2 separate regions of the Homo sapiens genome follow, and region 2 is linked to region 1. A link means that fine-mapping ties the variant in region 1 to the expression of a gene that starts in the linked region. Tissue or cell type: whole blood. Region 1 holds a variant in brackets; the other region holds the start of a gene. All regions are shown on one strand. Distances are from middle to middle.

What was found. PIP is the estimated chance that this variant, and not a neighbour inherited with it, causes the effect.
Region 2: it holds the start of ITGB1BP2, and the variant in region 1 is the best candidate, but not a certain one, in a credible set for the expression of ITGB1BP2 in whole blood (TOPMed, PIP 0.62).

Annotation. Positions count from the first base shown.
Region 1 is chrX:71,321,079-71,326,452 of GRCh38, reverse strand. No RefSeq gene overlaps it. Among named protein-coding and RNA genes, the nearest start is that of ITGB1BP2, 22 kb to the right of the region's middle. The variant G/A (reference allele first, on the strand shown) is at 2,453.
Region 2 is chrX:71,299,425-71,304,751 of GRCh38, reverse strand. ITGB1BP2 (integrin subunit beta 1 binding protein 2) reads right to left here and starts at 3,002. Exons shown (of 11, transcript NM_012278.4): 1 at 2,882-3,002; 2 at 2,566-2,615; 3 at 2,419-2,475; 4 at 2,196-2,341; 5 at 1,396-1,490; 6 at 1,236-1,291; 7 at 1,055-1,125; 8 at 841-940; 9 at 452-565; 10 at 148-210. The coding sequence starts at 2,945. It overlaps NONO (non-POU domain containing octamer binding), which reads right to left. Exons shown (of 12, transcript NM_007363.5): 12 at 3,584-4,810. The coding sequence ends at 4,676. RefSeq lists an enhancer at 5-1,204.

The DNA of each region.
Region 1 (5,374 bases):
GTTTCTGAATAAACATTTTACTTATAACAAGAAGATGGTCAAAAAAGGCATTTCTGAGAGGTTTTATTTATTATTATTACATATTTTTTTGAGACGGAGTTTCACTCTTGTTGCCCAGGCTGGAGTGCAATGACACAGTCTTGGTTGACTGCAACCTCCACCTCTGTGGTTCAAGAGATTATCCTGCCTCAGCCTCCTGAGTAGCTGGGATTACAGGCATGCACCACCATGCCTGGCTCATTTTGTATTTTTAGTAGAGACGGGGTTTCTCCATGTTGGTCAGGCTGGTCTCGAAATTCCAACCTCAGGTGATCTGCCCACCTTGGCCTCCCAAAGTGCTGGGATTACAGGCGTGAGCCATCACGCCCAGCCCTATTTATTTACAGACAGGTTCTCACTCTGTTGCCCAGACTGTAGTGCAGTGGTGCCATCTTGGCTCCCTACAGCTTCCATGCCCTGGGCTCAAGTGATCCTCCTGCCTCAGCCCCCTGAGTAGCTGGGACTACAGGTGCACACTATCATACCTGGCTAATTTTTGTATTTTTTTGTAGAGACAAGTTTTTGCCATGTTCCTCAGGCTGGTCTCAAACTCCTGGACTCAAGGGATCCTCCTGCCTCAGCCTCATAAAGTGTTGAAATTACAGGTGTGTGCTACCACACCTGGCCTTTTTTTTTTTTTTAATTTTAAAAAATAATGGCCAGAGGCGGTGGCTCACGTCTGTAATCCCAGCACTTTGGGAGGCCGAGGTAGGTGGATCACCTGAAGTCAAGAGTTCAAGACCAGCCTGGCCAACATGGTGAAACCCCATCTCTACTAAAAATACAAAAAATTAGCTGGGCATGGTGGCGGGCGCCTGTAATCCCAGCTACTCAGGAGGTTGAGGCAGGAGAATCACTTGAACCCAGGAGGCAGAGGTTGCAGTGAGCCAAGATCAGGCCACTGCACTCCAGCCTGGACAACAAGAGCGAAACTCCATCTCAAAAAAAAAAAAATCATTTTAGGCTGGGCATGGTGGCTCATGCCTGTAATCCCAGCACTTTGGGAGGCCAAGGTGGGCAGATCACTTGAGGTCAGGAGTTCAACACCAGCCTGGCCAACATGGTGAAACCCCATCTCTACTAAAAATACAAAAATTAGCCAGGCATGGTGGCACATGCCTGTAGTCCCAGGTACTTGGGAGGCTGAGGCAGAATTGCTTGAACCCGGGAGGCGGAGGTTGCAGTGAGCTGAGATCGCACCACTGAACTCCAGCCTGGGCGACAGAGCGATAATCCATCTCAAAACAAAACAAAACAAAACAAAACAAAACAAAAAGTTGTTAATGCTCACTACCTATATCTATTTGTTGAGAATTAAAAATTGTTATATTCTATTATTTTTCTTTTTATTCATTGGAATAGTTGTGTAACAACATGTCCTCTCATCTACTATTTTGTTACCCAGTTCACCTAGGAAAGGCAGGATAAATGTTTGATTTTTTTTCCCCTTCATTGACCAGTTTTCAAGATAATTAATCAGTTCCCATCATGAGAGATGATGTTTGAGCTAAGACCTGAATGAAGAGCCAGCTATTCAAATATCTGGAGGAAGAGGCCAGGGGTGGTGGCTCGTGCCTGTAATCCTAGCACTTTGGGAGGTGGGCAGATCGCTTGAGCTCAGGAGTTTGAGACCAGCCTGGGCAATGTGGCGAAACTCTGTCTCTACAAAAAATACAAAAATTAGCTGGGCATGGTGGTGCATGCCTATAGTCTCAGCTGCTTGGAGAGCTGAGGCGGGAGGATCGCTTGAACCTGGCAGTTTGAGACTGCAGTGAGCTGTGATCACACCACAGCACTCCAGCCGGGGCAACACAGTGAGACCCTGTCTCAAAAAAAAAAAAAAAAAAAACAGGCGCAGTGGCTCACGCCTGTAATCGCCTGTAATTCTAGCACCTTGGGAGCCTGAGGTGGGTGGATCATTTGAGGTTAGGCGCTCGAGACCTGCCTGGACAATATGGTGAAACCCTGTCTCTACTAAAAATACAAAAATTAGCTGGGTGTGGTGGCAGGCACCTGTAATCCCAGCTACTTGGGAGGATGAGGCAGGAGAATCACTTGAACCAGGGAGGTGGAGGTTGCAGTGAGCTGGGATTGTACCACTGCACTCCAGCCTGGGGGACAGAGCAAAACTCCTTCTCAAAAAAAAAAGATCTGGAGTAAGAGAATTCCAGCTGGAAGGCCGGGCACGGTGGCTCATGCCTATAATCCCAGCACTTTGGGAGGCCGAGGCGGGCAGATCACCTGAGATCAAGATTTCGAGACCAGCCTGACCAACATGGAGAAACTCTGTTTCTACTAAAAATACAAAATTAGTCGGGCATGGTGGTGCTTGCCTGTAATCCCAGCTACTCAGGAGGCTGAGACAGGAGAGTAGCTTGAACCCAGGAGGTGGAGGTTGCAGTGAGCCAAGATC[G/A]CACCATTGCACTCTAGCCTGGGCAACAAGAGCAAAACTCCATCTCAAAAAAAAAAATAGAGAATTCCAGCTGGGCGCAGTGGCTCACGACTGTAATCCCAACACTGAGAGGCTGAGGTAGGCAAATTGCTTGAGCCCAGGAGTTCCAAGACCAGCTTGGCCAACATGGCGAAACCATGTCTCTACAAAAAAATTAGCTGGGCATGGTGGCGTGCATCTGTGGTCTCAGCTACTTGGGAGGCTGAGGTGGGAGGATCACCTGTGTCCGGGAGGTGGAGGCTACAGTGAGCTAAGATCACCACTGCACTCCAGCCAGGGTAACAGAGCGCGAACCTGTCAAAAAAACAAAAAAAGAGAGAGAGAGAGAATTCCAGGCAGGAGTATCAGATAGTGCAGACGAACTGAGGAAGGAGTGAGCTGTATACGTTCAGGGAATACAGAAGACCAGCATGGCCACATTACTTTCACTCCTACCTTTGGAACTATCTCTTAAATCCATTACCCCCTGTTCCATTTTTCCTACCATACCGTTAATCTGGAGTCTCATCTTTCTCCCTTGGACCACTGCAATTACCTTCAACTCATTTCAGTGCCTCCAAGCTTCTCTCTCACCCTACCCAGTTAACCCCTTGGTCACTGAAAGCTTTTAACTCTGTATAGTTTCTTTGGTGAGAATGCATTTATAATTTTACAACAGATGTCACTGGCAAAATAAGATTCATTTAATAGAGGGGAGTGTTTGCTGAAAAAGTATTGCTGGACATCAAAGAATATAGGCTTTGAATTTCATGACATGCAGTAAAAAAAAAAAAAAAGAATATGGGTTTTGTAGTCAGACCTGGATTTAAGTCCCTGCTCTGACACTTGCCAGCTGTGTGACCTAAGGAAAATCATATAACATCCCAGGGATTGTTTCCTCATCTATTAAAAAAAATAGTAATAGGCCAGGCGTGGTGGCTCACGCCTGTAATCCCAGCACTTTGGGAGACTGAGGTAGGTGGATCACCTGAGGTCAGGAGTTCAAGACCAGCCTGGCCAACATGGGGAAACCCCATCTCTACTAAAAAATACAAAAATTAGCCAGTCATGGTGGCACATGCCTGTAGTTCCAGCTATTCGGGAGGCTGAGGCAGGAGAATTGCTTGAGCCCGGGAGTAGAGACTGCAGTGAGCTGATGTCATGCTACCACAATCCTGCCTGGGAGACAGAGCGAGACTCCCAGGCTATCCCGAGATATCTTACATTGATATAAGCCTTTTCCAAATAACTTTTATTTATTTATTTATTTATTGAGACGGAGTCTCACTCTGTTGCCCAGGCTGGAGTGCAGTGGTGCAATGATCGTGGCTCACTGCAACCTCCACGTCCTGGGTTCAAGTGATTCTCCTGCCTCAGCCTCCCGAGTAGCTGGAACCACAGGTGCATGCCACCACGTCTGGCTAATTTTTGTATTTTTAGTAGAGACGAGGTTTTGCCATGTTGGCCAGGCTGTTTTTGAACTCCTGACCTCAGGTGATCTGCCTGCTTCAGCCTCCCAAAGTGCTGGGATTATAGGTGTGAACCACCACACTGGGCCCCAAATAACTTTTGCATCTCTGATCACCTGCTCTCTAACCTCACTGAGATGCCTAGGTAATCCACCTCTCAATTCATCCAGATGAAGTAATTATCTCCCAGTTGTAGTAGTTTTCTCTCCTACACTCCATGAACTGCCACTCCAATGTTACTGTCTCTGAGACCTCTGCCTCCATTATCCTCTTTCTTCCTTTCTGCTCCCAAAGTCCCAGAAACTGCTAGAGGGAGAACGAAGTAGACAAATATAAATTCATGCTGTCCAATTTCAACTTGGCCCTTGCAGCTGCTCAGCAACCCTTTTATTTGTCTCATACATTCCCTGGCACTCTCCCACAGAGGCTGTTCCAGACCTTCCTCTTTCTCTTCAAACTACAAATTCCAGTCTCCCTCCTTCTACTTCTAAAAACTTCATATTAGACAGTTTCATTACATTAACTATCCCTCCTGCAACAAATCAGTATCTTTCTCCCTCCCAGCTCAATCCTCTAGACATCCAGTTCCATTCCTGGGAAAGCAATAAATGTTATTTATCTCTTATTTATCTTTCCAGAGATATTTTATGACTCTATAAGCAAAAATATGGAAAAGAAGGAATTTGCACTGCCTGTTAAAGATAAGTAGGATTGGGCGGGTGTGGTGGCTCAAACCTGTAATTCCAGCACTTTGGGAAGCCAAGGTGGGAGGATCACTTGAGCTCAGGAGTTCAAGATAAGCCTGGACAACATGGCAAGACCACGTCTCTATAAAAATTAAAAATTAGGCCGGGCGTGGTGGCTCACATCTGTAATCCCAGCACTTTTGGAGGCCCAGGCAGGTGGATCGCGAGGTCAGGAGATTGAGACATCCTGGCTAACATGGTGAAACTCTGTCTCTACTAAAAATACAAAAAAATTAGTCGGGCGTGGTGGCGGGCGCCTGTAGTCCCAGCTACTGGGGAGGCTGAGGCAGGAGAATTGCTTGAACCCGGGAGGCAGAGCTTCCAGTGAGCTGAGATCGTGCCACTGCACTCCAGCCTGGGTGACAGAGCAAGATTCCGCCTCAAAAAAAAAAAAAAAAAAAATTAAAAATTAGCCAGGCCTGGTGGCACAAGCCTGTGGTCCCAGCTACTTGGGAGGCTGAGCTGAGAGGATCACTTGAGTCCAGGAGGTCGAGGTTGCAGTGAGCCATGATCCTACCATTACCCTCCAGCTTGGGCAACAGAGGAAGATCCTATCTCAAAAAAAAATTACAAAAATAAATTTTACAACAGATAAGTAGGATTTGGAGGCCAGGTGGAGTGGCTCTAGCCTGTAATCCCAGCACTTTGGGAGGCTAAGATGGGAGAATCGCTTGAGTCTAGGAGTTTGA
Region 2 (5,327 bases), 22 kb after region 1:
TAGGAGAGAGAGAGAAAATGAAAGCAAATGAAGAGAAAACCTCCATTTTCCTAGTACAACTCCTTCCCTCAAGACACCCTCTATTCCAGTCTAGCCGCTCTTTCACCCATCTGCCTCCCACTCTTGTGTCCCCTGGTCTTCACTTACCCCCCAGAGCTTCATCTGTGCTTGGAACACACGGTTACCATCAAAGACAATGTGGACATGAAGCTGAGAGAAAAGAATTACAGGGGTAGTAACAAACCCAGAAGGTCAGAATAGGTCATTACGACAGATAACCAGGTCAGAGGTATGATCCACAGGTTGGCCAGACAGCCCTGACCTAATAACTCTCCTTTCCTCTAAGGGTACTATGGAGCCTACAGGTTAACAGCAAATGGCAACTCTGCCTGTGAGATTGTAGTATCACCCAATTGACTATCCTCCCATCCAACATCAGATCATTGCTCACCTCAGTTTGACTGGCCTTCACCCAGTTAAACGCAGGAAGTGGAATCTGGCCATATACAGTCACCACTACTAAGGAATCTGTCTGGTGCCAATCATGGCGGCAAGATGCTGGGAGCTAAAGAGAAGATGTGAAATGCAGGTGGTAAGAATAAATTCTTAACTGAAGGGGAGTTCTCATGATGCACGTGGAGAAGAGACAGAGAGTCTCAAAAAGATTAACACAACCTCATATTGCAAAACCTCTGGGCTGTTGAGGGATAAGGAGCAGAATCTTATTTGGTCTATACTAAAGGGAGAAGACAGGGAGCTTGGCTATGTGGTACAGAGAGGGAGGAGAATTTACCTCTGAGATTGGGTTCTAATCAAGAGTTCAGGAAAGCTGGGGCTTACCTGCTTCCCCCAGTCATGTCTACCGACTCTGCACCCTGGTTGTGCCAAGAATGCCCCAAAATCCAGGGTCTGGATGCCACAACAGCTCCAAGACTTCATCCTGAAGTAGGAAGATAATTCAACTGAATTCTCTCACCCCCAATATTATCTTATGACCAAATATTAGGAGAAACCTGTCTCATAGCCTCATAGCCCACCCAGTCCCCTCCCTCACCCCTCATGGAATCGGGGTGCTCCTGGGTGGTAGGTACATGGAGTAGCATCACTCTCAGGGCCTTGGTAAACCTAAGAAGGATAAAGTAGAACCAGGTCATTCTAAGGTATATCCTACTCAGCCTATCTATACCCAGTCATCCCTCAGCCATATGCTTGAGCCCCTCAAAACTCTCACTCACAGCATCACATCCTGGGTTCTGGCAGCTGGAACCAGTCCGGATCAGACTGTCAAGTCCTGGGCAAGGGAAACAGAGTCAGGAACTTATCCATCCCCCCACTCAATTGCCACTTCCACTAAATTCCAGTCTATGAAGTTGATCCTACTAAAGACCCACCTACCTGCCCCAGGTTCCTGGTCTAATTCCTTCTGTTCCAATGCCATTTCCAGGGCTTGGGATATATTTAGCGGCAGCAGCTTCAGAGGCAACTCTGACCTAGGGGTTAAGGGTGGTGATTTAGTTCTGACCCATTAGCTATGATTGCTAGCTCCAACACTCCCACCGATGGTAATGGAATTAAAGAAGCCTGGTGAAAGTGAGGCAGAGTTGGAGAGGTTGGGTAGCAACCCCATTGCCAATTTTCATCTCTGTGGACATCCCAAATACCTGAACCCTAGAGAAATCCCCAGCACTTCTCTTACCCATCTACTCAGTTGCTCTAAACCTAACCACTTTTCTCTGCAGAACTGAGTCATATCCTCTTCCTCTTTATCTAATCGTGGACCTAATATGACTTCCTTCTGTTGCTCTTATTATTCCCACAAAATTTGGGAAGTCTCCTGGCTGCCAATAATACAATACATCCTTTTCTTGATATGAGATTTATCTTAAAGTTCTTTTCTAGAAAGAGAAGTCATTCTCAACAATCCCTTTTGTGTTATACACTAAGGATGTATTTGTGAGGGGCTATCTACTCTGTTGATTCAGGTATCTATCCCATCATCCCACACCACCTTAGAGGAAAGGGCGTTATTTCCAGACACAAATTTCCCCTAAGGCACAGGATATACACCATCCAAACCCTGACATCTGGCCCTCCTCACATCCCTGGTCCCTAGTTCCCAGTCCTCAATGACCCATTAATCACTCCTAGGAAGCTACATGAAAATAAGAAAAGTCCAGGGGCCTCCTCCTCTTTACTTGGGCCTCTCCCGGCGCAAGGTCTCTGCTGACTTTGGAATCACATTCAGAGGTTTTTGCTCCTGAAGTGAACTGCTTGTAGCAGGGCCTTCAGGTTGAGGGGCCTCAGGAAGCTTCTCAGCACAGTGTGGTCCCATAGTACAGCCCTAGTATAGATAAGGAGATAGGATTAGGGATAGAATCCTTCTATTGGGGGCAGAATCCAAGTACATAAATAATTTACCTTGATGTTTAAGAACTCAGAGAAATCTACAGTTCGCTTTCGGCAGCAGGACCAACCCTGATAACAAGAGACCCAGATCAGCTTAGCTTCCTGGGTATTATCTCTTCTGGGAAATGCTCTTGCTAACCCCCCTCACCTACTCCTCACCTTAAGTGCATCATGGAAGATTGGGACCCCAGGGTGATGGCAACAGGAATCTGTGGACATCAGTAGAAGTTATCAAGGAAGGGAAGATAACTATACCAAGTATCATTTTTCACCTCTTCCCCGGGTTTCTATTTATGGTTTCTTCCCATATAATGTGAAGAAAAAAAAAAAAGCCAGCAAAGGCTGTAAGATCACTCAGACCAATTAAACTAGGGCAGGTAGTTTCTTTCCCCGCTCCTCAAACACACTGCCCCCCAGCTGACCAGTCCCCAACACCCACACAGAGCCCCTGGCCAGGTCAGGATTCTTTACTCACCAGGAAGGTTGGTATTAGGGTCAAAGTGCTGCCCACAGCCTTTGTTACGACAGAGTAGAGACATGGAAGCGTTGGTTGAATGATTACTGAAAGGGTATTTCAAGGAGTCTGGCTGCCGAATGGGGAACACCTCTTAGTCTGGAGGCTTTTAGCTGCCTGGAAGGGCCAGCTGTTTCTATCTTTAGTTCAGGAGGCGTACACCTCCTAACATGGGCAAGGGAACTTCAATTCGTCTTTCCAGCCAATAGGAAAGAGCTCGGGGGCATTTTAGCTCTGAGGCTCAGGAAAAAAGGATCAGGCAGAGTAGGGCTTTGAACTTGGGTGAGGTCAGCTCACCACTACTGAGACAGTTTTAGATTCACCACAGCAATTCCAAGCCTTGGACACAGCAGCAGCTGCTAAGAAACAAATACCAATTTTGAGACCCCCCCCGCGCCCCCAGCTCGATGAGGATTAAGCCCATTTTCTTCCTCTTTCAGAGGGGCAGCTTTCCTCCATCATTACTTCCATGTAGTATCAATAGCGCTAATCCTTGCCAACCCCTCCAGCCATTTGATGCACCTCATCCCCACCTCCTCCCCATGTTTGTCTAGATCAATACTGTAATCCAAAGGTCATAAAGGATTACCTTTATAGAGTCTACTGCTCATCTCCTAAGATAACTCCCCTCCCTCCTTTCCCCTTCAAAAACACCACAGAAAATTAAAAGGCTTAAAATGTATTTTAATAGGTTGATGCTGCATTACTGCTCCATTTTTCAGAAAAACTCCAAATATATGAGACAAATCAAACACAGTACACCAATGAAAAAAAAAATGCACAGCATGACTACCTAAGATAGGCGAGTCTAAGAGCTACTGTCAGACCTTCAGTATACAGTAACCCTGTTCCCAAGATTGTACTAGGCCTATCAAGAAAAGCTGTGAACAGCAACATCATAGACACAAAAGGGTCATTCCTGGGTGTCCTCACCCAAGAAAAAGATGGAGGCAAGTTAACACAAGATTTTTTTTTAAAGATACACTAAAATGAAAATCTCTAAGAGAAAATGTCTTCTTTAGGACATGAAGGGGTAATATATGGGGTATAACAGAACCGTATGTACGCTGCCTGTGACCTTTGTGGACGTTTGCCTGAATTCTCACCTGGGAGTGAATGGAGCAATGGGGCTAAGGTCATTGGGGGATGTTTGGTTTTTGTGGTGTATGTGGCAGTTTCTCTGGGGCTGGGGGAGTGTAAGGATAAGAAGCAAGTGAGGTTGGGCACGGTGGCTCACCCCTGTAATCCCAGCATTTTGGGAGGCCGAGGTGGGTAGATCACGAGGTCAGGAGTTCAAGATCAACCTGGACAAGCTTGAACCCGGGAGGCAGAGATTGCAGTGAGCCGAGATCATGCCACTACACTCCAGCCTGGGCGACAGAGTAAGACTCCGTCTCGGGGGCGGGGCAAGCAAATGAAACAAGATGGACAAAAAAAAAAAAAACCGGAATGATCAAGATTAATGGGCTCTAACTGGATCCACTTTGCCATGGTTTCCCCAGGCCCTCAACAGTCACATTAGAGACTTCAGGAATGCACCACACAGAACTGATTAAACAATATACCACACAGAATTGACTTGTTTAATACCACCCCTCCCTTGCCCTCTGCCTCCAGCATACTCCCTAGAGTAGTACAGGCAGGGTAGATCTAACTATTGGAAGGAATCCCTAACACTTTTCCAGGGTAGAATTCTGGCTAGTCCAAAAAGGGTCCTTCTTTTAAGGGTTTTGAGAAACTAGACACTGCAACTTATTAGTATCGGCGACGTTTGTTTGGGGCAAATTCAGCTCCAGGAGCTGCACGGTTGAATGCAGGAGGAGTTCCACCAATTGCCCCAATTCCTTCCATTGTAGCAGCCTGACCAAAGCGTTCAGTTGTTGGTGGGGTCTTAAAGAGAAAAAGAGAGCAACACTGTAACAGAGCCATTGTTGGAAGCTTCCCACCCATCTGTAGTCCCTCCACTGGAGGCTATTTCCATTCAACTATTCAAGGCTCCTGATGGTAGGTAGGAGTGGGTGACTAAGTCTGTTTAGAACTCTAGTGGATAACCCCAAAAGTGGTGGCGCATGCCTGTAATCCCAGCTACTCAGGAGGCTGAGGCAGGAGAATCGCTTGAACCTGGGAGGCGGAGGTTGCAGGGAGCCAAGATTGCACCACTGCACTCCAGCCTGGGCGACAAGAGCAAAACTCTGTCTCAAAAAGAAAAAGAAAAAAAGAAAAACAAAAACAGAAACAACCAAACTATCCAGTTTTGGCATTTTAACACCATAACCAAAACAACCCCAGGATTGCATGAGCCATGAAGTATTTGGATTCACAACTATTTTATGTGATAATGCCTAGCCTTCATTGACTTCCCTCCAACAAACATAGTCAATCAGACTGGCCAGTCAGACGGTGGCAT